Regions from separate parts of the Homo sapiens genome. Here region 1 is linked to region 2. The links come from fine-mapping of genetic effects on gene expression. A gene starts in region 2. The other region holds a variant in brackets. All regions are shown on one strand. Distances are between the middles of the regions. Region 1 overlaps BTNL9 (butyrophilin like 9). Region 2 holds the start of BTNL9 (butyrophilin like 9).

Region 1 (14,238 bases), 25 kb after region 2:
CATCTGGAGACTTCGTTAAGGTTCCAGAGTTACTGACTGAGATTTCTGAGCTTTTTTCCCCTTTTCTGTTTGGTTTCAGAGTGGAGAGCAGCCCAAAAATATGCAGGTAACTGAAGCCAGGAAACTGATTTGTGTTTTGGTTTGGCCGGATCTTAAACAGAAGGGAGGTGGAGAGATCTGAGATTAGAGGACGGGGCTTTATAGGAGCCAAGTATGGGGCCTGCACACACAAGACACACACGCACACTTGCAAACACGCCACACGACACATATGCCTGCATGTGTATGCACACACATGCACACGTGAGCTCCCAAACACATCGCTCCTTGGGGTTACACTAGGTTTGTTTCCATCTGGCTTGAGGCTATTTGCAGGCGAGAGTGCAGAGTCTGTAATGAACCTCCCAGATTCTCTGACGAAGGGGTCCCCTAGGTTCCCATCTGTCAGATGGCATGGGGTGTTGAAATGTGGGGCACTGGACTAGATGATCTCAAAGGTCCTTTTAAAATCCTTTTAAAAACTTTTCTGAAGGACTGTATGTAAAAAAAAAAAAAAAAAATCCAAAATTTCTGTAAAATGACGCTCAGCGCTCTCCTGATTATGCCAAGGTCACGCAGGGTGGTGCCACCAGCAGGAACTAGAACCAGCCCATAGGTCCTTCCCCTTGACCGGGACGTGGCTCCCTCCCCGCCAGCCTACTTCCTTTGCTATCTCTGGTATGGAATTCAGGGACCTTCCAGTTCAGGAAAGGACAGGATTCCTTGTCACTATCAAACACTCAGGAGTGACTGACACATGCCACTTCAGTCCTGGGGAGGGGGTTTGCAGGGGTGAGGGTCGGGGTAAGGGGTTCATTTCCTCGATTATTCCACCAAGAGAAACGAGAGGTTTGTCCGCCTTGGGGAAGACACGGACGGGGCCCAGACCGTCCCGGGCGGGCACTAACGCTGTGGCTCTGCGCAGTGGATGTGACGCTGGACCCGGCCTCGGCGCACCCCAGCCTGGAGGTGTCGGAGGATGGCAAGAGCGTGTCTTCCCGCGGGGCGCCGCCAGGCCCGGCGCCTGGCCACCCGCAGCGGTTCTCGGAGCAGACGTGCGCGCTGAGCCTGGAGCGGTTCTCCGCCGGCCGCCACTACTGGGAGGTGCACGTGGGCCGCCGCAGCCGCTGGTTCCTGGGCGCCTGCCTGGCCGCGGTGCCGCGCGCGGGGCCTGCGCGCCTGAGCCCTGCGGCCGGCTACTGGGTGCTGGGGCTGTGGAACGGCTGCGAGTACTTCGTCCTGGCCCCGCACCGCGTCGCGCTCACCCTGCGCGTGCCCCCGCGGCGCCTGGGCGTCTTCCTGGACTACGAGGCCGGAGAGCTGTCCTTCTTCAACGTGTCCGACGGCTCCCACATCTTCACCTTCCACGACACCTTCTCGGGCGCGCTCTGTGCGTACTTCAGGCCCAGGGCCCACGACGGCGGCGAACATCCGGATCCCCTGACCATCTGCCCGCTGCCGGTTAGAGGGACGGGCGTCCCCGAAGAGAACGACAGTGACACCTGGCTACAGCCCTATGAGCCCGCGGACCCCGCCCTGGACTGGTGGTGAGGCGCCCTCGTGGCCGCGGGACTGGCCCCGGGGGGCCCCCTGGATCCCAGGCCAGCGCTTTGCTCTCCTGCTCCGTCTGAAGGGAGCAGGTGCACCAGCCAAAATGTCAGCGAGGGGGACAAAGAGAGGGACCTTTGCCTACGTAGATGTGTATGTGTAGTGCGATTTTCTTCAAGGAAAGGAGACAAGTCCAAAGCTCGTTTGTGGATTGTGGGACTGAGCGAAGGAGTACAAATATATCCACGTCGCTCAGAGCTGGGGTGCTCACGGTGGGCGGTGGGCAAGAAGCCAGCATGGAAGAAAGAAGGGAGAAAACTTTGGTGACTGCCTTAGAGGGATCAGTTAATTTGTATAGTTTTATATTTTTTGTATATGTTTGCTAGCTCTAAAAAGGTCGAGATGCAATAACACTTCGTAAGCAACGAGTTCACCTAAGTAAGGCTCAGATCCTAGTTTTAAAAACCATTTCCCATTAAAATGAAGTTGGAGGAACAGCTGCTTCTGGAGCCGGGGCAAAAATTTCAAGGTGAGCCTGGAGCATTGTGTGTGGTGAAGTAAAATAAAGGCTCAAAACGTGACGGCAACCCGGCAAAAGGGTAGGGAGCCAGGCCGAAGGGGCCTCACTGACCAATTGTGGGACAATTTGAACATCAGGATGAATAATGACAGGAGAGATTATAACACACTGAATAAAAACATAATCCATGAGTTCATGCTGATACTCAAATTTCTTTTTAAAAAGGAGAAACAGGAAGGTTTCTTTTGGAGGTGAAATCTAATTATTGGTGAGAGTCTTGGAGAACAGGCTGTTTCCAGTCTCAAAGCAGTAACCTTATACACTACTTATAAGTTTGAAAGGGGAAAGGTTACCTTTACAATGGAGACATCTACCAGATCATCCAAGTGATTAAATTTAACATCATCAATGATGGGACCAAGGACATTATTAGTTTGACAACTGGGGAAAGAAGTGTTCTTCACCCCCTACCCCCAAGACATTGTCTCTGTCGGCCAGGCTGGAGTGCAGCCTCAACCTCCTGGGTCCAAGTGATCCTCCCACCTCAGCACACAACACCATGCCCAATTTTAAGTGCGTTATAGAGACGGGGGTCTCACTTTGTTACCCAGGCTGGTCTCAAACTCCTGCGCTCAAGCAATCCTCCCACCTGGGCCTCCCAAAATGCTGGGTGTACAGGCATGAGCCGCTGTGCCTGGCTTCATTTTCAGAGTGAGACATTTGTACTGTGGCTATGTAGGAGAACATTCTTGTTCTTAGCAAACATACTGAAGTTTTTAGATATTAATTACCACAGTGTCTGCCACTGAATTTCCAGTGACTAAGTGGAAAAATATAAAACATATGAATATAAAGAAAGAAAGAGACAAGTCAAATGTAGTAAAATGACAACACTTGGTGACTCTAGGTGACTGGTCGACAGATGTTCATTGTACTATCAATGTGGCTTTGCTGTGGGTTTGAAATTTTGCAAACTAAGAGTTGGGTGGCGGGGAGAAGGATACACCAAAAAACTAAGTGATTATCTTTGGATGGGAAAATGTTTGGTAATTGCATTCTTAAAATGTCTTCTTTGTATTTTTTAATGTTCAATAATGTATATGTATCAGTTCTGTAATAAAGGGGAAAACACTTTTTTTAAATACTCATATTCAAAATCATTCATTTGAAAGGAGCTATAATGAAACTGCTGGACGATCTCCTAGGCCATTGTTTCAGAGTAAGTAAATATGGCTCTCATCCCCTTCCCCTTAATCCAGGCAGAGCTTTCCTTGCCCGTCTTGTTTGAAAGGGGGAATGAGGAAGGGAGACTGGTCCGCAGCCAAGCTTTCTAACTGGTCTTTCCTCCTTCTTCCCTCTTTCCCTCTCCTTTTCTTTTCCTCTTCATGGGGACTGAGATTTCTACTAGGGCCTTTAGCACCAGGATGGGAACGGATGGGGCAGGGACACCTCTGGGATGAGCTTTCGCCCCACAGGCCCGGGAGTTCGGTTACGTACCAGAGGGAGGTGGCACAAATAAAAAAATTCACTAAGTGGCGCTGAGAGTCGGGAATTCACTAAGTGCGCTGAGAGTCGGGTTTCGCTGTCAGTGAAGGGAAATACGAAATACGGAAAGGGGAAAGGAGAGGATGAGGGTGACTCTGAGGTGGACTGGAATGAGATGTATCAATGTGAATGCGTGGGTTTTACTGCATGTAGAGAGATGGAATGCACGCACACACGTGGACAGATACACAGATATGTGTGGGTGCATGCAGATCGTTCCCAGCTCTGTCTTGTTTGAAGGCTTAGCAACAATAACACCCCAGTACCAACGGGCACACCGAGACCCAGAACTTAGTTTTTAGTACGATTTTCAGTAAAAGGAATAAAGTCTCCTTGGAGAAATGGTTGAGTCCAAGGCTGGGGCAGGGAAAATACAAGGAGAGCCTACAATATCCTACACCAGAAAATAAGGAAGTAGGTTGCACAGAAGAGCCATGTCGAATGGATTTAGACGTCAGAATGGATTTTGAACCCCTGAATCAAATAGGAATCCATATGTATATTTCCCCACTGATATACATACATACATACATACATACATAAACAAATTCATGGAGAGAAGAGAAAGCTCTGCCCTACAATAGGAGTCTGAAAATATTACTTCTTAACTCATAAGTACAAAACACGTACCAATTAACTTTACAGTGGAGGAGGCTGGCAGGCGCCACCTTAGCCAAATGACAAAAGTTAACATCACCAGATGCGAAAACAGTTTACATCACATTCTTCCTGATACAATGCAGAATACAAACGGCATCACTTTTGAGGTATTCCTGCACCCAAAAATGCATAAATCAGGAGGAAACATCACAGAAACTGACTGGTACTCTTCAACAATGTCAAGGTCATGAAAGACGGGACAACACTAAGGAACTGCTTCAGACTAAAGGAAACAGGACAACTAAGTGCAACAGGTGACCCTGGATGGGATCCTGGATCTATAAAAAACATCACTGGGCCAGACAAATTGGCTCAGGCCTGTAATCCCAGCACTTTCGGAGGCTAAGGTGGAATGATTGCTCGAGTCCGGCGGGGGGAGATTATTGGGGGAAAAAAGGGCATTTTGAAAGAGGTGTGTGGATTAGATAATAATATTGGATAAATGTTAATTTCCTCATTTTGATGTAGAAGAATGCTTTTAAGAAAATGCACACTTACATATTAAGGGGTAAAGGATTATGATGTTTATACCTTATTTTCAAATGGTTCATTAAGACATATAGTAATATAAACAAAAGAGAGAGAGAATGATAAAGAAATGCAGTGGTGTCTGATAAATGTTTAATAACTGGCTTTCTAGGCTGGGCGCGGTGGCTCATGCCTGCAATCCCAGCACTTTGGGAGGCCGAGGCGGTGGATCACAAGGTCAGGAGATCAAGACCATCCTGGCTAACACGGTGAAACCCCGTCTCTACTAAAAATATAAAAAATCAGCTGGGCGCGGTGGCGGGTGCCTGTAGTCTCAGCTACTCGGGAGGCTGAGGCAGGAGAATGGCGTGAACC[C/T]GGGAGGCGGAGCTTGCAGTGAGCCGAGATTGCACCACTGCACTCCAGCCTGGGCGACAGAGTGAGACTCTGTCTCAAAAAAAAAAAAAAAAAAAAAAAAAACTGGCTTTCTGAAAAAAAAAATATTGAGCCAATTTCCCTGGTGCAAGTCCTCCCACTATGGTTGATTTCAAGCTAAAGATGTGACACCACTGAGGGCAGACTGGGAAGTGCCTTAGTCAGCTCTCGCTGCTGTAACAAGATGCCACACACGGGGGAAGTGCCTTAGTCAGCTCTCGCTGCTGTAACAAGATGCCACACATGGAGGAAGTGCCTTAGTCAGCTCTCGCTGCTGTAACAAAATACCACACACGGAAGAAGTGCCTTAGTCAGCTCTCGCTGCTGTAACAAAATACCATACACGGAGTGGCTTGTAAACAACAGAAATTTATTTCTCACAGTTTTGGAGGCTGCAAGTCCAGGATCAGGGTCCCAGCACGGTCAGGGTTGGCGAGGGTTCTCTTCTGGGTTGCAAACTGCTGCTTTGCTTTGTATCCTCACATGGCAGACAGCAAGAGAGTTCTCCAGGGTCCGTTTATATTTTTGTCTTTTAAATTGAGACAGGGTCTTGCTATGTTGCCCAGGCTGGTCTGGAACTCCTGGCCTCAAGTGACCCACCTACCTCAGCCTCCCAAACTGCTGAGATTACAGGCATAAGTTACCTCATCCAGCCCCTACCAGGGTCTGTTTCTGTTTTTTTTGTTTGTTTTTTGTTTTTGAGACAGTCTCACTCTGTCGCCAGGCTGGAGTGCAGTGGCGCGATCTCAGCTCACAGCAACCTCCACCTCCTGGGTTCAAGTGATTCTCCTGCCTCAGCCTCCAGAGTAGCTGGGACTGCGGGCATGCACCACCACACCCAGCTAATTTTTGTATTTTTAGTAGAGACAGGGTTTCACCATGTTGGCCAGGGTGGTCTCGATCTCTTGACCTCATGATCTGTCCTCCTCGGCCTCCCAAAGGACTGGCATTAAAGGCGTGAGCCACCCAGCCTCTAACAGGTCTGTTTTTACAAGTGCATTAATCCCATCATAAGGACTCCACCCTCATGACCTAAGCACCTCCCAAAAGTCCCACCTCCTACTACATTGCATTGGGTGTTACGATTTCAACATGTGAGTGGGGCATGGTGGAGAGGGACACATTCAGACCATAGCAGGAAGAGACACCCATGATCAGCTCTCATGAGATGCCAGCTCCAGAGACCATTGTTTGTGCAATTCTAGAGGGAGATTGTAATTTGTTTCTCCATCAAGTCAGATAAGTGCATTTTAAGCTTATGAAAATATTCTTGGTCACCTGTTGGGAGAAAGCTATTCCCCTTAATTAACACATGATATTCAGAAAATGGAAGTTTTTTTTTCTAGAGTCATTTGCATTAGTGTGAGAATATTTAGGGTTCTTACTCATGAATGTTTTTGTGATAACATTAAAAATATGTTCCCTCTCCATCTGTAGCTATTATTCCTTTAAGACTGTATTTATGTGATAAATAAGAAAAGCAAACATACAGCTAATATAAAAAACAATGCTAAACTGTGTTTAAATAATCAGTGGACACCATCAGCCCACTTTAAATGATGGGCAGGCTGTTTTCCAGTGCAGGAGGGCTGTAGGCAGCCAGGGGCCCCAGCTGGAGTGGCATTAAGTTCAAACCCCTCTCTCACAAGGGCTGACAGCGGCACACAACCATGTGGCTCAACCAGCCAGCCAAAGATCCCGTCACCCCGACCCCCGTTCCTGGGCCCATCCAGCCCATAGTAAGGTGTCTCGTGGTAAGGCATCATACCAAAGTAGGCAGGGTCTGCAGCTTGGAGGAGCTAAGGGTAGCTGGCATTCACAAGAAGCTGGGCCAAACCATTGGCATCTCTGTGGAGCCAAGATGACAGAACAAGTCCACTGAGTCCCGCAGGCCAATGCACGGCACCTAAAGGTGCATGGGACCAAACTCATCCTCTCCCCAGGAAGCCCTTGGCCCCCAAGAAGAGAGACAGTTCAGCAGAACTGAAATTGGCCACCAGATTGACCAGACCCGTTATGCCCATCAGGTATGTCTACAGGAAGGAGAAAGCCTAAATCATCACCGAGGAGGAGAACTTCAAAGCCTTTGCCCCAAAGCCTTTGCTAGTCTCCACATGGCCTGTGCCAACACCTGGCTCTTCGGCATATGGAGAGCTGATGCAAGCTGCAGAACAGGATGTTGAAAAGAGAAAATAAATACCCTCCGGGGACTTAAAAAAAAAAGGGGGTGGGAGGGTCCAATACCCAGCCTTAAACTGAGAGAGACCTGAGACATTCAGGTATACATTTTGTGAACCATGAAGGCCCCGGGAGAGGCTGCCCAGAAGGCTGGAGCATGCAGAGTAAAAACCCACGTTTCCCTCCTGCAAGCGGCCCCATGCAAGTGTATACAAATAGCACATGGTGGATGTCCTTCTCCCTATCGTTCACATTTTCCATGCAGCTAACCCTCAAAAGTAGGAAAAGGGTGATTGCAGCACTTTCGTGTGTATCTCCGTCCAGTGTACAGAATACACCAGTGCTGAACCTGGTTGGGAGGCTTCTGCTGCTTGAGGGCGCCTGAGGATGGGAAGCTCTTTGGTGGTAGTGTTATGGGATCTCTGGGGTGTTGATTTTGCTGGTGTATCTCCTGGAAACCTCTGTGGCTGTGGCACTTTGCCCAAATTCTTGTTCTTTTCCTGTATCATACACAGACAAGTGAGGGGTGAAGAAGAGTTTTATTTAGTGTTCCAACAGCTCAGAGGAGTGAGTAGCTCCTCACTGTAGGCTGGTTGCCCATGGAGTGTTCAGTCCTCGGCAGAAAGGAGGCCCTGAAGAGGGTAGCTCCTCTCCACAGGCAAGTCATTTGGATGTCTCTACAGGTCTCTGAAGCTCTCATAGCAGAGAAAATACGTCCTCTCTGCCGGCAGGTCTCTGAAGCTTTCAGTGGAGAGAGTACTATTCTCTCTCCAGCTGGTCGTCTGTACAGTCGTCTCTCTGCCCTCTTTGTTTTGTGGTCCTTCTCTGGCCTGCTCTGGCTGGTCTCGGGACTTTTATAGGCCTTAGAGGGGAGGAAGTGCATGCCGATTGGTCCATGGGTGGCCATAGGCGGGTCCAGAAGAGGCACCACGAGTCCCCACTCAGGTCCGCAGGACTGGCAGCCCAGCCTTCAAGGCCCTCCCTGGCCTGAAAGTGGGACCTTTCCACAAAAAGATATGTAACATTTTCAATTTTCTATGTCATCTGTAAATTGTTACAACAAATCCAGGTAGACTGAAGTATATGGAGACTGCATAGTGTGAATTCTAAAGTTAAGAAAAAAACAATAAAATAAAATGCCAAAAGATGAAGATTTATACTGAAAAAATCAATAGAGGTGATAAAATAAAATACCAAACAATTTTGATTAGTCCAATAGGATGCAAATAGGAGGAATTGTGTTTTTTGAAAAGGGTACAGATACGTAGAAAACAAAAAGCAAATGTTAGATTTAAATCTTACCAGAGAGATAGCTATAATGACTACAAACAGAATAAACACTTCTATTAAAAAGAAGAGATTGACAGACAACTCACTTTAAAAATAAAGAATTGATAGGGCAGTAAAGTAATAGACAAAAATACAACTTGCAAAAAGATATTCCATGTGCATGGATACACAAAGATAGCAGGGTTAGCTATACTTGTATCAGACAAAATAGTCTTTAGGTCAAAAATTGTAAAAAGAGATTAAGAAAGTCATTATGTAATAATATTTCAATATTAAGAGGATATAACAATTATAAATATATATGCGCCCAAAACTAGAGCACCTAAATATATAAAGCAAATTTAAAATAATTTAAAGGGAGAGATAAACTAAAATGCAATTGTAGGAGATGACTTTAATACTTTTTTTTTTACTTTTTGTTTAGAAACAGGGTTTTGCTCTGTTGCCTGGGCTGGAGTGAAGTCACACAATCATAGCTCACTGTAACCTTGAATTCCTGAGCTCAAGCAATCCTCCTGCCTCCAGCCTCCTAAGTAGCTAGGACTACAGGCGTGTGCCACCACCATGCCTGGCAATTTTTTTTTTTTTTTTTTTTTTGGTAGAGACAGGGTCTAGTATGTTGTGCAGGCTGGTCAACTTGAACTCCTGGCCTCAAGCAATCCTCCCTCCTAGACTTCCCAAAGTATTGGGATTACAGGTGTGAACCGCCAGCATGAGCCTGGCCAATATTTCACTTTCAACAAGGAATAGAACATCCAGACAGAAAATCAAAAAGGAAACATTGGCCTTCAAACCAAGTAGACCTCATAGATGTATACAGAACATTTCATCCAACAGCAACAGAATACACATGCTTTTCTGGAGCACATGGAACATTGTGCAGGATAGATTCTATGTTACAGCACAACATAAGAAGACTGAAATTATATCAAGTGTCTGTTCTAATCACAATGGTATGAAACTAGAAAATAACAACAGGAGAAATCTTGCAAAATGCACAAATATGTGGAAATTAAACAACCTGCTCCTGAATAACAATGAGCCAAAGAAGAAATCACAGAGAAAACAAAAAATATCTTGGGACAAATAAAAATGAAAATATAACACAATATGAAAATGGAAAAATCACAAGAAGCAACCTAACTTTACATCTCAAGCAACTAGGGAAAGAACAAACTAAAACCCCAAGTGAGCAGAATAAAAGAAACAATAAAGATCAGTGCAGAAATAAGTGAAATTGAGACTAGAAAACAGCAGAAAAAAATCAATACACAATTGAGAACTGGATTTTTTGAAAAGATAAGCAAAATTCACAAACCTTTCCCTAAACTATAAAAAAAGACAGAAGACTCAAATAAAACCAGAAATGAAAGAGGAAACATTACAATTGATACCACAGAAGTAAAAAAAAGATCATAAAAAGCTACTATGAACAGCAACCAATCAGATAATCTAGAAGAAATGGATAAATTCCTAGCAACATATAATATACCAAGTATGAATCATTAAGAAATAGAAAATACAGGCTGGGCATGGTGGCTCACGCCTGTAATTCCAGCAACTTTGGAAGGCCAAGGTGAGCGGATCACTTGAGGCCAGAAGTTCAAGACCAGCCTGACCAACATGGCAAAACCTCATCTCTACTAAAAATACAAAAATTAGCCGGTTTCAGGGCATATGCCCTAATCCCAGCTTCTCGAGAGGCCAAGGAATGAGAATTGCTTGAACCTGGGAGGCAGAGGTTGCATAGCCAAGATTGTGCCACTGCACTCCAGCTTGGGCAACAGAGCAAGACTCTGTCTCAGAAAGAAAGAAAGGAAATAAGGAAAGGAAGGAATGAGAGGAAGGAAAGGAAGAAAGGAAGAAAGAAAATGTAAAAAGTATAAGTAAGGAGATAAAATAAAAAGTCTCCCACCAAAGACAAGCTTAAAAACTGATGGCTTCACTGATGAATTCTACAACAGTTAAAGAGAATACCAGTATCTCTGAAGATCTTCCAAAAAATTGAAATGGAAATAGAATTTCCAAACTGACTTCATGAGACCAGCATTACTCTAATACCAAAGCCAGACAAAAACACTATTAAAAAAACTACAGGCCAATATCTCCAATGAACATAGATGCACCAATTCTCAATAAATACTAGCAAAACCAAACTCGACAACACATCATAAACATCATATGAACAAGTGGGAATTATCCCTGGGATGGACAAAGCAATGCATATGATACCCCACATTAACAAAATGAACGATAAAAACCACATGGCTATCTCCGTTGATGCATAAAAACTATTTGACAAAATTTAACATTCATGTTTTCTTCAAAAAAGCTCTCAACAAAATTGGTACAGAAGAAAACTTCCTAAATACAGAAAGGTCATTCATGAAAAGCCCACAGCTAGTACCATAATGAGGAAATACTGAAATATTTTACTCTAAGATCGAGTGCAAAGCAAAGATGCCCCCCTCTCACCACTTCAACACACAACTGACAGTAATAGCAAGAGCAATCAGAAAAGAAAAAGAAAAACATTTGAGGTAGCAAAGAAAAACTAAATTATCCCTATTTGCAGAAAGCATTATTTTATATGTAGACAACCTTAAAAACGCTAATTAAAAAAAGTTAAAACCAATGAATTCCATAACGTTGCAGGATAAAAAAAACCAACATACAAAAAGCAATAAGCATTTCCATATATTTAACAAACTATCTGCAAAAGAAATCAAGAAAACACCACTTTCAATAGCATCAAAAAAATTTAAATACTTAAAAATAAACTTAACCCAGAAAAACGAAGTATCTGCACACTGACAACTCTAATACATTAAGGAAATAAATTGAAGACACAAGTAAAAAGATATCCCACGGACATCATGACAAGTGAAGTGTGAAAAAGAGTTTTATTTAGTGTTAGAGCAGCTCCGAGGAGTGGGTAGCTGCTCACTGCAGGCTGGCTACCCGTGGAGTGCTCAGCTCTCAGCAGAAAAGAGGTCCTGCAGAGGTTAACTCCTCTCCACAGGTAAGTCATTCAGGTATCTCTGCAGGTCTCCGAAGCTCTAAGCAAAGACAGTAGCTCCTCTCTGCCGGCAAGTCCCTGCATCTCGCAGTGGAGCGAGTACCCTTCTCTTTCCAGCTATTGGTCTGTCCAGCAGCCTCTCCGCCGTCCTCTCTGGCTGGTCGTTCTCCTGCCGAGTCCGCCTGGTCCCGGGACTTTTATAGGCCTCAGGCGGGGAGGAAGTGCATGCCGATTGGCCCATGCGTGGCCATGGGCGGGTCCAGAAGAGGCACCACGAGTCTCCACTCAGGTCCGCAGGACTGGCAGCCCAGCCTTCAAGGCCCGCCCTGACCTGAAAGAGGGACCTTTACTGGGGACCTTCCCCCTTCCGCCAAGGACTCCGTCTGCCTCCTGTGGTCATTCAAGGCCCCCAGGGCTCGGCCCCAAATCCGATCCAAGATCGGAGCAGTTGCCAGGAGTGGAGAAAAGCCAGGTAGTGGGAGCAGACGCCCCAGAGCCTACAGGGACAGAAGTGGGGGAAGGGAGGGGTCCTTTCTGGGGCCCCCGAGGGTGCAGGCTGCAGAGATGCCCGGGTCCTGCAGGTAAGAAGGCAGCTGCAGCGCCTAGGAGGGCAGACGCAGCCACACCCCTGAAGGCAGACCCTGTCTGCTCCCAGCCCTCCCCCAAGAGCACAGAGGGGGCTCGGATCCACAGGTGCAGTTTGGGCTGCTATGGCCCCGGCCCTCCCGCCTGCTCCGTACAACAGGAGGCCTGGGTCTGCGTCTGCAGTTTGGGCGCCTGGAGCTCCAGTCCCAACTCAGAAGGGACAGGGCTCCCACCAGCTCCCTGGAGCGTGCAGCTCCAGCCGTGCCTCCCTGCTGTAGCCGGCATACTGGCAGCAGCCACTGCCATCAGCAGAGTGGGGGAAAGACCTCCTCAGCCAAGCGGGCATCAAGTTATCCCCAGCTCGCCAGGGAATCTCAATGGGAAGACAACGATTCCCCAAGAATTGGGCATTCCTGCACATTTTTGGTGGGCTTATAAATTGGTGCAGCTTCTTAGAGGTCAATTTTGGTATTATCTACCAATTTATAAATGTGAACATTCTTTGACCCAACAATTCCACTCCCAGGAATCTGTTCTACAGAAATATTTGCATTAGCACCTAAAGACATAAGATATTCAATGCGTCAGTATGTACGCAGAGGTCGAAAACCATCTACCTGCTACCAGGGGAACAGATATAGTTTATTCATACTATGGGGTACTATGGCACTGTAAATTTTATGATACACATAAATTTTTACAGGGAGCATGTATTGCTTTGCAATTAAAAAGGAAATGAGGTGGCTACACCCTCCCCAAGTCCTCCTTATTCCTCAGCTCCCTCAGCTGTGCTTTGGCTGAACCCCCAGCCTCTTTTCCATGCCATTTGTGTCAGGACATTCCCATGCACTCCCCACCCGGCAGACGGCCTGGGAAGGAGGCAGCCAGATAGCTCGACATGGCTCGCTTCCCAGGTAATCTGACCCAAGGGAAACACAGGCTGGCACTGGGGAGGGTTAAGCGGGCTCTCTCTAAGGTCTTCATCTCCCAGTTTTCTTTTCCTCTGGGCAGGTCGTCCAGCCCATCAGAACAAGATACCAAGCTCCTCTTCTTGCAGACATCCCCCAAAGTTCCATGTGATTCTTTTAGGGGCTGCTTGGGGAGTGGCAAGTACTCCTAACTCCATCCCCATGGAGGGCAGGGAATCACCTCTTTCCAGGAGCACCATGCCCAGGGCCATGGTGACTCCCTCTCCAGCCTACTTCCCACCCCCAACCCCTCCCAAAGAAATGACCTCCTCTTTGGACCACTTTTTTATTTCACATTTATTTCTTTTATTTATATTTTATGGTCAGTGCAAACAATTCCATAAAGTAAAAACTTATGAAGAATCAAAGCATGATTATTTAAATTCAAAATAGACAGTTGATGCAAAATAATACAAGTATAAAAGTGGCTTCATTTGCACACACAGCAGCATGCGTTTCAACACATATCAAGGATGGTGAATGGTTGTTTTTTATTCTCTTGAAGACTGTGACAACATCAGATACTACAATGAATCTGTGTTCACATCAGCCAAAATTTGTTTCTAAAAATACTTTTTCACATTTAAACTACTGTCAAGATATGCTTTCCAGAATTAAGCCTCTAGTTTCTACCATCTAATAACTGATACAAAGCTGGGTACAGTGGCTCATGCCATAATCCCAACACTTTGGGAGGCTGAGGTGGGAGGATCACTGGAGGCCAGGAGTTCAAGACCAACCTGGGCAACAAAGCAAGACCCCATCTCTGTAAAAATAAATAAATAATTTTTAAATAAATAAAAACTGATCTAGAAAGTGTTCCAAATGTAACTCTTCTGGTTATTAACGGTTAAAAAATAAGTATTTTCAAAAGTAATTTAAAATAATTGTTTCAAGTTTAATAATGCTGGTGCTCTTCCACCCTAACTCCAGGATGGGAGCCTCTGGTTTGGAATCTGTAGGCCCGGGCCAGGCCTCCCAACAAC
Region 2 (12,516 bases):
CCTGTAGTCCCAGCCACTGGGGAGGCTGAGGCAGAAGGAGCACCTGAGCCCAGGAGTTCGGAGAGTGCTGCGGAGAGCTAGGATCACTGGACTGCATTACGTACAGCCTAGTTGGCAGAGTGAAATCCTGTCTCTTTAAAAAAAAGCCAAGGCCAGGTGCGGTGGCTCACGCCTGTAATCCCAGCACACTGGGAGGCCGAGGCAGGTGGATCACCAGGTCAGGGGATGGAGACCATCTTGGCTAACACGGTGAAACCCCATCTCTACTAAAAAAAAATACAGAAAATTAGCCGGGCATGGTGGCGGGTACCTGTAGTCCCATCTACTCGGGAGGCTGAGGCAGGAGAAGGGCGTGAACCCAGGAGGCAGATCTTGCAGTGAGCCCAGATCACGCCACTGCACTCCAGCCTGGGCGACAGAGCAAGACTCCGTCTCAAAAAAAAAAGCCAAATGATAACTCCTAATCCCCAAATCTAACATTTTAGAAAGTAATAAAATAATAACAGTACTCTTTTAAATACTTTAAAAAGTACTCTTTTAAACATTTCTTGCATTAAAGGACCTCTAGTATTTAGAAGGAAGGCACTGTTTGAAGCCCAGTTGACAATATTTTCCATATGATCTTATTTGATCCTGGCTCTGCTGGGGGTGTATTGGGACGCAGGGAGCACACAGTCCTGGTGAGGCCAGGCCGATGGGTCCTGACAGGCACTGCTCATTAAGACCAGGGTCAGAGGACTTGTAAGAAAAGCTGTTTCTAGGCTGACAACTTGTCAAAGTACAATTTTCAAAAAACTTTTAAAACATGACTCATTCAATTATAAAATGATCATGTGTAATAGATTTTATTCAGTCCCTTAATTTGAGGTAACCAATGACGTGGTAAAGACTAGTTCAGGAAGCACTTCAGGAATTATTTTTTAAAAAAAGGAATTAGATATTTAGAGGCAGTTTAATACAGAAACGTTGTGGTAAGACTGCTGCCTTATCTACAGAACTGGATAATCTCTTAGAAGGCGATACACCATAACCTTTTGGGTTGTATTTTTCTACTGGATAGAAATTATCTGGATGCATGCAGTGGCTCGTGTATATAATCCCAGCACTTTGGGAGGCTGAAGGGGGAGGATTGCTTGAGCCCAGGAGTATGAGACCGGTCTGGGCAACATAATGAGAACCTCATCTCTATAAAGAAAAAATTAAAAAATTAGCTGGTCACCTGTGGTCCCAGTGACATGGGAGGCTGAGGTGGGAGGATCACTTGAGCCTGGGAGGTTGAGGCTGCAGTGAGCTGTGACTGTGCCACTGTACTCCAGCCTGGGTGACAGAGCAAGGCCCTGTCTCAAAAAAGAAAAAAATTATTTGCAACTCTACTGGGCAAAAGTCTACAAGTTAATTATGCAAATTCACTAAATCTGGGGTTTTTAAGTAATGGCAAACAGTAATCAAAGTACACTTCCATAAGTAATCTGTGGCTGGGCCAGTGCCCACATGACACTGAAAGGACATGTTACCTACCTTTTTGCCTTATTTGGAAATTTAACATAATTTTTTTCTTCAAAAGTTCTCCTCCTGTTAAAGCAAACAGTATTATTTGTTCCCTAAAGGTGCCTGGAGAGAGTGTGGATGAAACAGGAGAACCCACCGTCTGCCGGGGACAGCAGGTTTGAATAACCAAGAGCACCCTCTTTAAGAAACGACCTGGTTATTTGTTTTTAATTTGTAATGGAGACAAGGTTTCACTGTGTTGCCCAGGCTGGTCTAGAACTTCTGGGCTCTCGAACTCCTGGACACAAACAAGACCCTTGTTTCAGCTTCTCAAAGTGCTGTGATTACAGGCGTGAGCCACCACGCTCAGCTCCCCCTAGTTTATTATTATTATTATTACCACCTGTTTATGCAACTCAAACCCTGTCAAACTGCGTTTTGGCTGGCTCTCTGAAAAGGTGTAATATAAGGGCACCAACCCACTTCCCTCCTACAAATGGTCGGGACTCAGATGAGCACTGTTTTCACAGGGTCTCCTCCATAACCAATGGTCGGGACTCAGATGAGCGCTGTTCTCACGGGGTCTCCTCCATAACCAATGCTCACTCTACCTGGCGTAAGCCCGCAGCTGGAGCTCCTTATTCTACCCACTTCTGTGTGTCAGGAGAAGGTGCTGGCTACTTCTTGCAGTGAAGGAATTCCTCCGAGCTAGGGATGCTCCGTGCTGATCCCTTTGGGCAGCACCACTCAAGTCACCCTCGAAAATGGCTTGCCTTGGCGAGGTCAGGCTGTTTGGGAGTAGAGGGTGTGTGTGGCTCCTGCAGCCCCCACAATCTCAGGAGCCAAAGATGAGCACCTGTGGCTGTGAGGGCAGCAGTGGGCCTCTCCTATCTCCCAGTGCCTGTGCACGTCTCTATCTGTGTGACAAAGCACAATGGGGGGCACTGTGCCAGCTGACAGGCACAAGAATGTCAGTGTGAGCTCCCTGGAGAACGGAACAGGAGAAAATGAAAATGCAGTAAGGAAGCTCAAGGGCCATGTTGTGGGCTGCCGGGGAAGGTGGATGGGGGATCGTCAGAAAAGGAGGAATTCACTACTTGCGAGGCTGGCATGACTTTGCTTCTATCTCCACTGGTAGCCCACGCTGGGCGTGAGAATAGCCTTTGCCCTGGGGATGAGGATTCTCCCATTAGCCCCTCCAGAATTCCCTCAGACGACCTCATGGTGAGGGCTGCTGTGCACCACGGAAGCTATATAATGGGGCATGTTCTCCGCTGTCCAAGTGATGGCTCCATGCTGGCCTGGCTAGCCCCTAGCCTTTCCTACCCCACACGTGCCAATCACCTCCCTCCACGTGATGGCCGCTGCCATCACAGGGGCTGCAGCAGGGAGGCCTGGCTGGGGCTGCATACTTCACGGAGCCAGTAAGAGCTCTGCCCCTTCTGAGATGGGGCGGGAGCTCCCCGGGTACCGCTGCAGTCACCCAAACTGTGACTGCAGACCCAGGCCTCCTGCTGTACAGATCAGGCAGGATCCCAACCCTCCTGTGTGGGTCTACAGCCACCCAAACTGCAGCTGTGGATCCAAGCCTCCCTGAGCTCCTGGGTGGGAGCCAGGGGCAGGCAGGATCTGCCCTTCTGCGTGCAGCTGCAGCCACCCAACCCACAGCTGCAGACCTCAGCCTCCTGCTCCACGGAGGAGGCAGGAGCCAGGACAAGCAGGAGCCCTGCCCCTTCCGAATTGATGGGGCAGGAGCTCCCCGGGTGCAGCTTCGGCCACCCTCCCAGGAGCAGGACCCCGGCATCTGTGCATTCTGCACCTCCAGGGCCTGGGAAGAACCACCCTGTACCCAGCCCCCCAACCCCCATCCCTGCAGGCTCAGGGCTGTCTGCTTCCCACTGCCTGGCCTCTCTCTGCTCCCACTCTCAGAGCGGGGTTGGGGCCTAGCCAGGGACCATAAATGGCAGTGGGAGGCAGACAGAGTCCCTGGAGGGAGAAGGCGGGTCCCCAGTAAGGCCCCGCCTTCAGGCCAGGGAGGGCCTGAAGGCCTGGCTGCCAGTCCCTCTGACTGGAGTGGGGACTTGTGGTGTCTCCCTCTGGCTGCCCATGGACCAATCAGCATGCACTTCCTCCCCTCTGAGGTGCATAAAAGCCTGAGGCTCAGCCAGAGCAGGGCAGAGGATGGAGAAACGATGGGATGGCCAGCTGCAGAGAGGAGCTACCCTCTCTGCTGAGAGCTTCAGAGACCTGCAGAGGTGTTCAGAACAACTTGCCTGTGGAGAGGAGCCACTCTCTCCAGGGACTTCTGTCTGCTGAGAGCAGCAGGTGGCAGGAGGACCAGTGGGCAGAGAGGAGCTACCCTCTCAAGGGCCTTCTCTGCTGAGAGCTGAACACTCAGTGGGAGGGGAGGACTTACCTACAGAGAGGAGCTCACTGCAGATCACCTCTGAGCTGTTCTAGCATTCAATAAAGCTTCTCTGCATCTTCTTCACCCTTCACTTGTCTGTGTACCTCATGACCTCATTCTTCCTGGAGGCAGGACAAGAACTCAGGTGCCACAGAGGTTTCTGGGAAGAAAATTGACACCCAAAAATCCCACACAAGGACAGATGAGGGTCCATTCTCTCCAGTGGCACCTATAGTCCGCCAGGGGTTCAGCACCTACCTTCATTTTGGATCTGAGCCTTTATGCATTTACTGGGTCTTGGAATGGGAGGTTCGGCTGGCAGGGACAGCCGCTGTCTACATCTTTCCTACTGCATGATGCGCCTGATATGCAGGCGGTGGTGGCAGGTGGGGTCCCCCTCCCACATCCCACCAGGGCTGTGTCTAGGAGCCACAGAAGTGGACTCTGCCCATTTCTCTCTCTCTTTGCATTTCTGCTGTGACAATCTCACCTCTCCCCAGGCAGCATGGAGGAATCCAACCTAAGGGCAATGAAAAGTTTAGGCCATGTTCTCGTTTTCGAGCAGCCCCTCTCTACAAGTGCAATTTTCCTTCTCTTTCACTTCCCTATGTGGCATGCAAGGGCCTCTGCAATGTGGTCCCATCCACTTCTGTTCAACCTTCCCTTCCACTAGTGAGCCACACACTGGTCTGGCTAACCCCTAGCCTTTTCCTACCTCCCACATGCTAATCACCTCCCTCCACGAAGAATGTCTGTCCTCGCAGGCTCTGTCCTCCCGGGCTGCCCATGGCTTCCCTGATCCTACTGTTTATGCAGCATCCATCTTAAGTATACCCTGTCCTTGAGCCCTCCTCTGTCTCCCCAGGCCCGGGGAACTGCACCCACTGTTTGAGCTCACTGTTCAGCCCCTTTTGCTGTCCTAGGGACATCTGTTCACATTAATAAGCCTGGGTGCCCAGTCTCACCAGCCTGTCTGAGCACAGACAGTCACCTCCAGGTCCATGCCTGAAGCTTGCTGGCTCCCGTCTCCCACCCATGTAGCGCCCTGTCACCTGCAGAGGCCCCTCTACAAACACAGGCACTTCTGGGAGTCCCTGGGGTGTGCTACTGAGGCAGAAAATTTAAAAATACATATGCCTTCATTCACTCCAAGAAAAGTAACAGGCAAGGCAAGGGTTAAAAAGTAAAGGACAAGTTTTCCTCTGCCTATAGCAAGCCCACTGCAAGGACAGTTATAACAGTGTCCAGAAAGCCAAGGCCAAAGGAATGGGCTCCAGATACCCGCCGCCCCACTTCCAGAGCAAGGTTGAAGGAAAAAGAGAGAAAGACAAATTCTTTTACTGTTACTGTTTTCCCAGGCTTCTTAAGCATGATTGTGTTTTACAAATGTCTGTACTTAGCCAGTTCTTGTTTTTCTTTCAATGCAGCTACAAAGTCACCCGCTGTGCAAGGCCACAAGTTATGCTATGCTATAGATTATGTGACCTATCATGATTAGCTGCTTTTGTTTTATTTATTGTAAGTCCACTTACAAAAACCCCGCTCTGTCTTTGTTTAATGCTCAGCTTTTTGGATGTGAGTCCACTGAGCCGGTGTGTACCTAAAATAAACAATCCTCCTGTTCTTCACATCGGTCTCTCCGGTCCTCAGTTTCCCACAACACTGCATGTGCTTGAGCTGCTCGTGCCTCAGCTCTGGCCTGTTCCCTGGAGGGGACGTCAGTGTGGGCTGCAGCTGGGTGGCTGGTGCCTCAGTCCGCTAATGCCCAAGTTGCACCATGGCCTACAGTAAGATGGGGTGGGCTGGGCTGGGGTAGTGCTTGCTGCTTCTTTTCTGACCTCTTCTCCACTAGAGAAATCCCAATCCAGCACCCTCCTGCATTTCTAAGTTGCACGTGAACAGGTTTTGCAGGTTGCCTCACGACAATGCCCCCAGGATTTGTTCCTTACTGACCTTGTCCTGAGGAGAAGGTTATGGTGGGTTAAAAATTGGTCATCAGCCCCTTCCTCGTGGTTAGTTAGTGGAGACTGCAGTCTACTCTCTTTCACTGTTCGGGGACTGCTACCCTGCCTCCTTGGAGTCCGAGCTTCACTGGCACAAAGACCCTGAACCCAGCTGGAGCGTTTTCTCCTCACTTTGAGCCTCTGCAGCTGTCGCTCTCTACAAAGCTCTCAGATACCTTTCCCCTCCTTCTGTGACCCTGGAGAGATATTTTACATGGGAATTCAAGATTTTTCTCAGAGACAGGATGTGACGACTTCCTTGTTTTGTTCTATCCATCTTGGTTTCCATAGCCAAGGGCAGAGCAAACGGCATATATCTTAGGGTGGAAGATGGATAAATAATTCTGTCACACGTGCCCTGGCCTCTGGAGCTCAGCTGCCAGTCCACGTCTAGGGAATCTTAGCATCTGGGACCAAGACACTTTACAGCAATCATCACCCTTTGCAGAGGAGGTGAGCTCACCAGGACTCATCTGCCATTTCAGACCTTTTGCTGCTACCTGCCAGGTAAGTGGCTCATTCTCAACAGCTGCCTACACCTCCATCTTTCAGAAACGGCAATCAGAAAATGAAGGTGGGAGGCTTTGGGAAGGCGTACAATTAGTGGCACCATTTTATTATCCGAGCTTGGCCGCAGCATGGGATGTTTCGAGTGTGGCCAAGAGGAGATGTCCACGCCCGTTTAGGTGGGCCGCATCTCAGGAGGCAGGATCCTGATACATCCCATTGCCCCCACCAGACGAAAAAGATTTCAAGCCTCATTGCGGTTCCCTTCTTGGGGCAGTCCATCTTCCTTAGAGACTAAGAGGGTGGAAATCCTCTTGTGGACCTATCGAAATCAAACCAGCGCAGGCAGTGAGCACTAGCTGGGGTCTGCCGGGGGGAAGGGCATTGCAGGGGGTGTCGGGGAGGCCCGTGGGAGAGGGCCAAGGCCCCACTGACACCTGCGGACTTGCAGCTTGGGGAGTGGAGGACAGGAGACAGGCAAAATTCACCAGTTACACAGCTTACAGAAGTAGCAAAGCAAAGACTATACTTCAGGGATAATTTCTGTACTTTGTTACTAGAGAAGTTTTCCACTCTGGGACCCCACAGTCTCCGCAGACATATGCAGAGCAAAAAATACTTCCTGTGTTTGGGAGAGCAAGAGACATGGCATTTATTAATAACATGGATTTTCCTGCCAGGTTTCATAACGTGGTCATTTAAGTGTGAAATGTAGTCTTAAAATTATGTTAGAGAATCCCCAAGGTTTTGCTCTGCCCCCATGGAAACACTGGGATCGCTCAGGACGCCAACAGCTGCATAGCAGGCGAGGGACTCCTGTGGGAGGACGTGGCCTGTGGACACTGCCAGGTTCGGAGATGTCCTTGGGAGATTTACTATTTGTCAGGAAGATAGTGTTAAGTTCAGGCAAATAATTATATGTGTGGACAGAATCTGAAATTCACCAATAGAGTAAGTAAGAGTGAGAGATTGTGAATGTGTAATACAAATGGAAAAGCAGGTTTTATTTTGTTAAGTTATTCACCAGGGAACCAACTGAAGTTCCTTCTAATCCTCTTTTTCTCCATTCTTGCTTTGCTGAAAGTTGGAGAAAAGGACATGTGTAGAGAAAATGGGATGCTTCAGGGTGGCTCAGAGGACACCAATCCATAGTGATTCGCCTGAGTTTGTCAGGTGGAAGCAGTGATTTTTAAGAGTCACTGATTAAAAACAAACAGTCCTAAGTGTATTAGGGAGATGCCATTTATTTGTGAATCAAAAACTTTTCTCAGTCTCTTAAATTATGGTTTTCCTGTAATAAGAATGATTTATATTTTTAGTGAAAAGTTGTTTTCCTTTCAAATACAGACTTTTTAAAAAGACTTAGTTTGAGTAAGTACCTTTTCATTTGATGCTTTTCTTGTGCCTAACCTTAGGAAATCCAGAATAGTATTTGACAGAAATTATGTTTTCAACTTGCCTTTGACATCTGTCCCACTGCATTTTGCTTTAAAATTCTTTATTTAACAATAAATTATCTAAAAAAATAACAGTAGCAAAGCAAAAAGTACTCATCTTTAAAGACAGACTCGACGGAGGGACCGGAAATCAGAAAAACATCAGGGTTGTTTAGGAATTGCAGGTGCAGGAGGAGAGAACAGGAGTGGGGCGGGCTGGGGGCAATGAGAGAGCAAGAAGAAAAGAAAAATAAAAAGAGAAGGAGAAGAAAGAAATGGGCTTTTGCTGGGTGCAGGCAGTGACATTTCTCAGGACCCCTTATTTCTCCCTGTGCCTTCCGGAGGGAGCAGCCCAAGGCTCCTGGGAGGACAAGCAGCACGTGCCCGCCGGCAGAGCTCAGCTCCAGCTGGAGGACCCCTTTGTGGTCCTTGCGCACACTGGGTTTTCCTTCTTCCCCAAATATCCGACGCGTCCAGTCCCTTACTCCTTCCCCAGGCAAAACCTCCTCACCAGGAACAACCTGAAATCAATTTACACTGTAATCAAAATAGCAGAGGGTGGAAAGTGTTTCCTTCGAGGAGGGGACTTACGCTTCAAGTAAGGATTGAGCACCCTGGATCCTTAACTGAAGAGTGAGGTCAGAAAGGGCGGACGCACAGCAGCAAACGGGGAGGAGGGTGCTGTCCAGGAGCCGCTGACTTTTCCCTTCAGGAAGCTGCCAGACCATCTCTCTCTGCTAAAGGCTTTCAAGATGATACCCTTGAGTGTTGGGAGCAAAGGGACCAGGTACCTGTTCCTCCTGGCTCAGAAGATGCTCTTGACAAAGTCTTAGGGAGACCTCAGCTTTAAGTTGTTTTATCTGGCAGCGGGATTTTAAATTTTGTATTCATTAGTTGGCTGGTTGGCTGGTTTTGTGGCTGGCACCGTGTGAGCCGGTCGCTTCTTCAGTGCCTCTGTGTGATGGCAGGTTAGGGTGAGTGTTTGGTCTGTGGCCAGCTGGTTCCTGAGACGGTCATGGTTTTGGGTAACAGGAGTGACGGAAGGGTGTACCCAGACACACGACGTAGCTGGTGAGGAATCTGAATTCGAGAAGTGCAGAGCGAGGCTCTGGAACCAGACAGTGGGTGGAACCCCACCCCACCACTCACCCACTGTGTGCAGGAGCAAGTCACTCAGCTCCTGGGCCTCCGTTTCCTTATCTATAATTTGGACCTATTAGTAATAATAATAATAAAAATAATAATACTGAGGTATAGATAAGTGTTTGATAGATAGGAAGTACCCAATGCATGTTAGTTTTATTACTGTCAGCACGTGTGTGTGTGTGTATGTGTCTGTGTGTGTGCATCTGTGTGTGTGTCTATGTGTGTGTCTGTGTGTGTGTGCATGGGTGTGTCTGTGTGTGTGTGCATGTGTGTGTGTCTGTGTGTGTGTGTGTGTGTCTACAATCCTCCTCCCCTGAAGATTCCATGATGGGAATCACACGGGTGTATCACAACAGAGAACTGAGGTCCCTCTAGCACTTCCACGGTTCTGGAACATCCTGCCCCAATCCCCTGTCCCCAGGAGGTGGCAGCCTGCCCCCAGTCCAGGGAAATTGGAGTGAGTGCTCCTTCTGTGAGAAGGCCAGCTGTGGGACCTGTCTCGCGCCCCATTACCACCTTATGAGCAGACCTGTGTCACAACCTAACACAACCTCGACTAATTCCCCAGAACCCAACCCATCTGAATGGATGCATAAACACACCCTGAGCCCCTCTTGGTTTTGGAAGTTACTAGCTGAACACTGACGTGCCCCTCCTGGTTTTGCTGTCATGGAGCTCTAACCTGTGTCTAGAATCCAGAAGAAAAGACTGAAGTATAAAGGAAAAGAGAAGGGAACAGAAGAGAGGGTGAGAAGGTGCACAACCAGTGTAGACCCCTTTGCTGGAACCCTTCCTTGCCAGCTTCCCCACCTGTCGCAGAGAGGCTTCCACCAGTAGCCACAGAGGGTGAGAGTCTGGACTGTCCAGCCAGGGCCTGGACCCTGCCCGAGGCCTCTGCCCATGCTGGTTATTGTGTGAATCGTGTTCCAATAACTGAGAGGTGTCAACACGGCCCCGCTTCGGGGGGACCCCACCTCCTGTCCTTGAACCTTCTTGAAACACACCTGGAGCTGTCCCAACCTGTCCTCTGTTTGTCCCCTCAATTTTAGCTCTAGGAGACAGGGCCATCAGCCCATGCGCCTCACAGGCCACCCCTCTTCCCTTGTATTCCTGCCTGTCTGGGTGCCTCCTAGCCTAAGGGTCCCTGGGGAGCCTCTACCACCTCATTAACTCACCCTGCACACCTCCTCTGATCCTTCTGCCTCTGCATGGCCCAGCAGCTTTGAAAGTCCTTCCTTCACACCTGCTGATGGTGTTGCTGACAGTGTGGCCAGTGCCCTGTGGCCACAGGACACCGGAAACACCTGCCATGCCAAGGTCTCGGAAGAAAAGCCAAGCCGTGGGGGCCGACGGGGAGACAGAGAGGGTTGGAGAGAGGAGCCCACCGTGGCCTTCCAACAAGGGCACTGTGATGAAGTGAAAGGCAAGGGGTGCAGTCCCAGGACGAAGACAGTGCGTGGGCGTTGGGAAGGCAGGGGGAAGGGAGGTGCTGACTTTGATTTCAAGAGCTCCTAGCAACCCATGGGAGTGGGCATTGGTTTCTTCCATGGTTCAGGCAGAGATTTCGGTCCAGCCAATGACAGAATCTGCCTAAAATCTTGCAGAACTAAATGCAAGAGAAATATGGAGAGTTTTGTGTATCTCCAGAGACTCATTGGCAGCAGCACACTCTCTGGCCGTGAGTCATTAGTGGGTCCCAAGGGAGCAGAGCATCAGGAGTGAGGGGGTAGCCCTTGTCTGGGCCAGGTCTGGGCCTCCTGGGTCATAGATGAGGAAGGGGTGGCTAGATGGGATGACTCCATCACTGTAGCCCCGAAGATGCTATCGACACAGAGACAGTTACCAGCTGGCCTCCTGAAGGCACAACTTGAGGTCCCAGGCCTGGAGGAGAGTGTCCTAGGATGTCGTTGGGGCTGGCAGGCAGCCACCTGCATGCACTCCACTTCTGAGAGAGCAGAACTCTGTGTTTGTTCCTCTGTTTTGCGGACTCGATGTTCCAGACCAAAGGGAAGTGGGACGAAGGTTGGGTTGGTGGTGGTGAGGCAGGAAGAATGAAAATGCATCTGAGATCTTCAGAGATTGCCCTTTGTTTGAGGAAAGTCGCTAAGCCCAGAAAAGGGGGGGCGCTGAGCCCCCACACATTGTGTGGCTCTATTCCTGGCTCTAAACAATAAGCAGCACAGAAGCTGCTTCCTCTGGGATCCTTCAGCCTCGTCCCCTTGCAGCTCTGTGAACCTGGGCAAGGCCACGGATGCCATTAACAGTGTCCCCTGGGAAAATTAGAAGCAGCTCTCCCCTCTGGCCATGGAAGAAGCCAAGCGCTGAGGCTTGTAAGGAATTTGAGAACTAGACAAAAATAACTGAGGCCACAACAGACTTCAGGTCTGATGGAGTGAGTTCCAGCTCCCCCTACCTTTGCACGTCGCTCCAGCACCCCTTTGTCCCTCTCCAGGTGGCCCCCACTGCTGACGAGAGATGGTGGACCTCTCAGTCTCCCCAGACTCCTTGAAGCCAGTATCGCTGACCAGCAGTCTTGTCTTCCTCATGCACCTCCTCCTCCTTCAGCCTGGGGAGCCGAGCTCAGGTATTGTGTCTGCAGCCTAGCTGGCCAGGATGTGAACGCCACCCCTCCTGCCAGGTGCTCCCCAGGGCTACGATCTTAGCACAGTACCAGGGCGTGCCAGACGCTAAAATACAAAAAAGACTTCCATCCTGGTTGTTAAAGAGCCACTACCCCGAGCATTACCCAGCCTGTAGTGATGTTCCTCCACCATCTCCCCAGCCCCCGACACCTCCTCCACCATCTCTCCAGCCCTCAACACCTCCTCCACCATCTCCCCAGCCTGTAGTGTTCCTCCACCATCTCCCCAGCCCCCGACACCTCCTCCACCATCTCCCCAGCCCCCAACACCTCCTCCACCATCTCCCCAGCCTCCAACACCTCCTCCACCATCTCCCCAGCCTCCAACACCTCCTCCACCATCTCCCCAGCCCCCAACACCTCCTCCACCATCTCCCCAGCCTGTAGTGTTCCTCCACCATCTCCCCAGCCCCCAACACCTCCTCCACCATCTCCCCAGCCCCCAACACCTCCTCCACCATCTCCCCAGCCCCCAACACCTCCTCCACCATCTCCCCAGCCTCCAACACCTCCTCCACCATCTCCCCAGCCCCCAACACCTCCTCCACCATCTCCCCAGCCCCCAACACCTCCTCCACCATCTCCCCAGCCTGTAGTGTTCCTCCACCATCTCTCCAGCCCCCAACACCTCCTCCACCATCTCCCCAGCCTGTAGTGTTCCTCCACCATCTCTCCAGCCCCCAACACCTCCTGCACACTTCCCAGCACTCCGAAATCCACAGGCATAGCAGGGAGCAGAGCAAGACGGTGCCAGGAAACTCACTGGCCTGTGTTTGTGCTGAACCCATTGATATACGTTTTTAATTTTACCCCTTGCAAATCTTCTCTCATGAAAGATGTAGCCAACAGAGGGTGCAAACTAATAATTCAAAGGTAATTTCCTAATTT

What was found.
Region 1: its variant is fine-mapped to the expression of BTNL9 in whole blood (TOPMed, PIP above 0.99).

The regions. Positions count from the first base shown.
Region 1 is chr5:181,058,273-181,072,510 of GRCh38, forward strand. It overlaps BTNL9 (butyrophilin like 9), which reads left to right. Exons shown (of 11, transcript NM_152547.5): 10 at 80-106; 11 at 965-3,249. The coding sequence ends at 1,590. It also overlaps the pseudogene RPL13P10. Among named protein-coding and RNA genes, the nearest start is that of MIR8089, 22 kb to the left of the region's middle. The variant C/T (reference allele first, on the strand shown) is at 5,156.
Region 2 is chr5:181,034,028-181,046,543 of GRCh38, forward strand. BTNL9 (butyrophilin like 9) reads left to right here and starts at 6,239. Exons shown (of 11, transcript NM_152547.5): 1 at 6,239-6,405; 2 at 11,440-11,571. The coding sequence starts at 11,463. It overlaps MIR8089 (microRNA 8089), which reads right to left and starts at 9,457; the gene lies at 9,376-9,457. RefSeq lists silencers at 2,133-2,511, 11,855-12,382 and an enhancer at 2,756-3,682.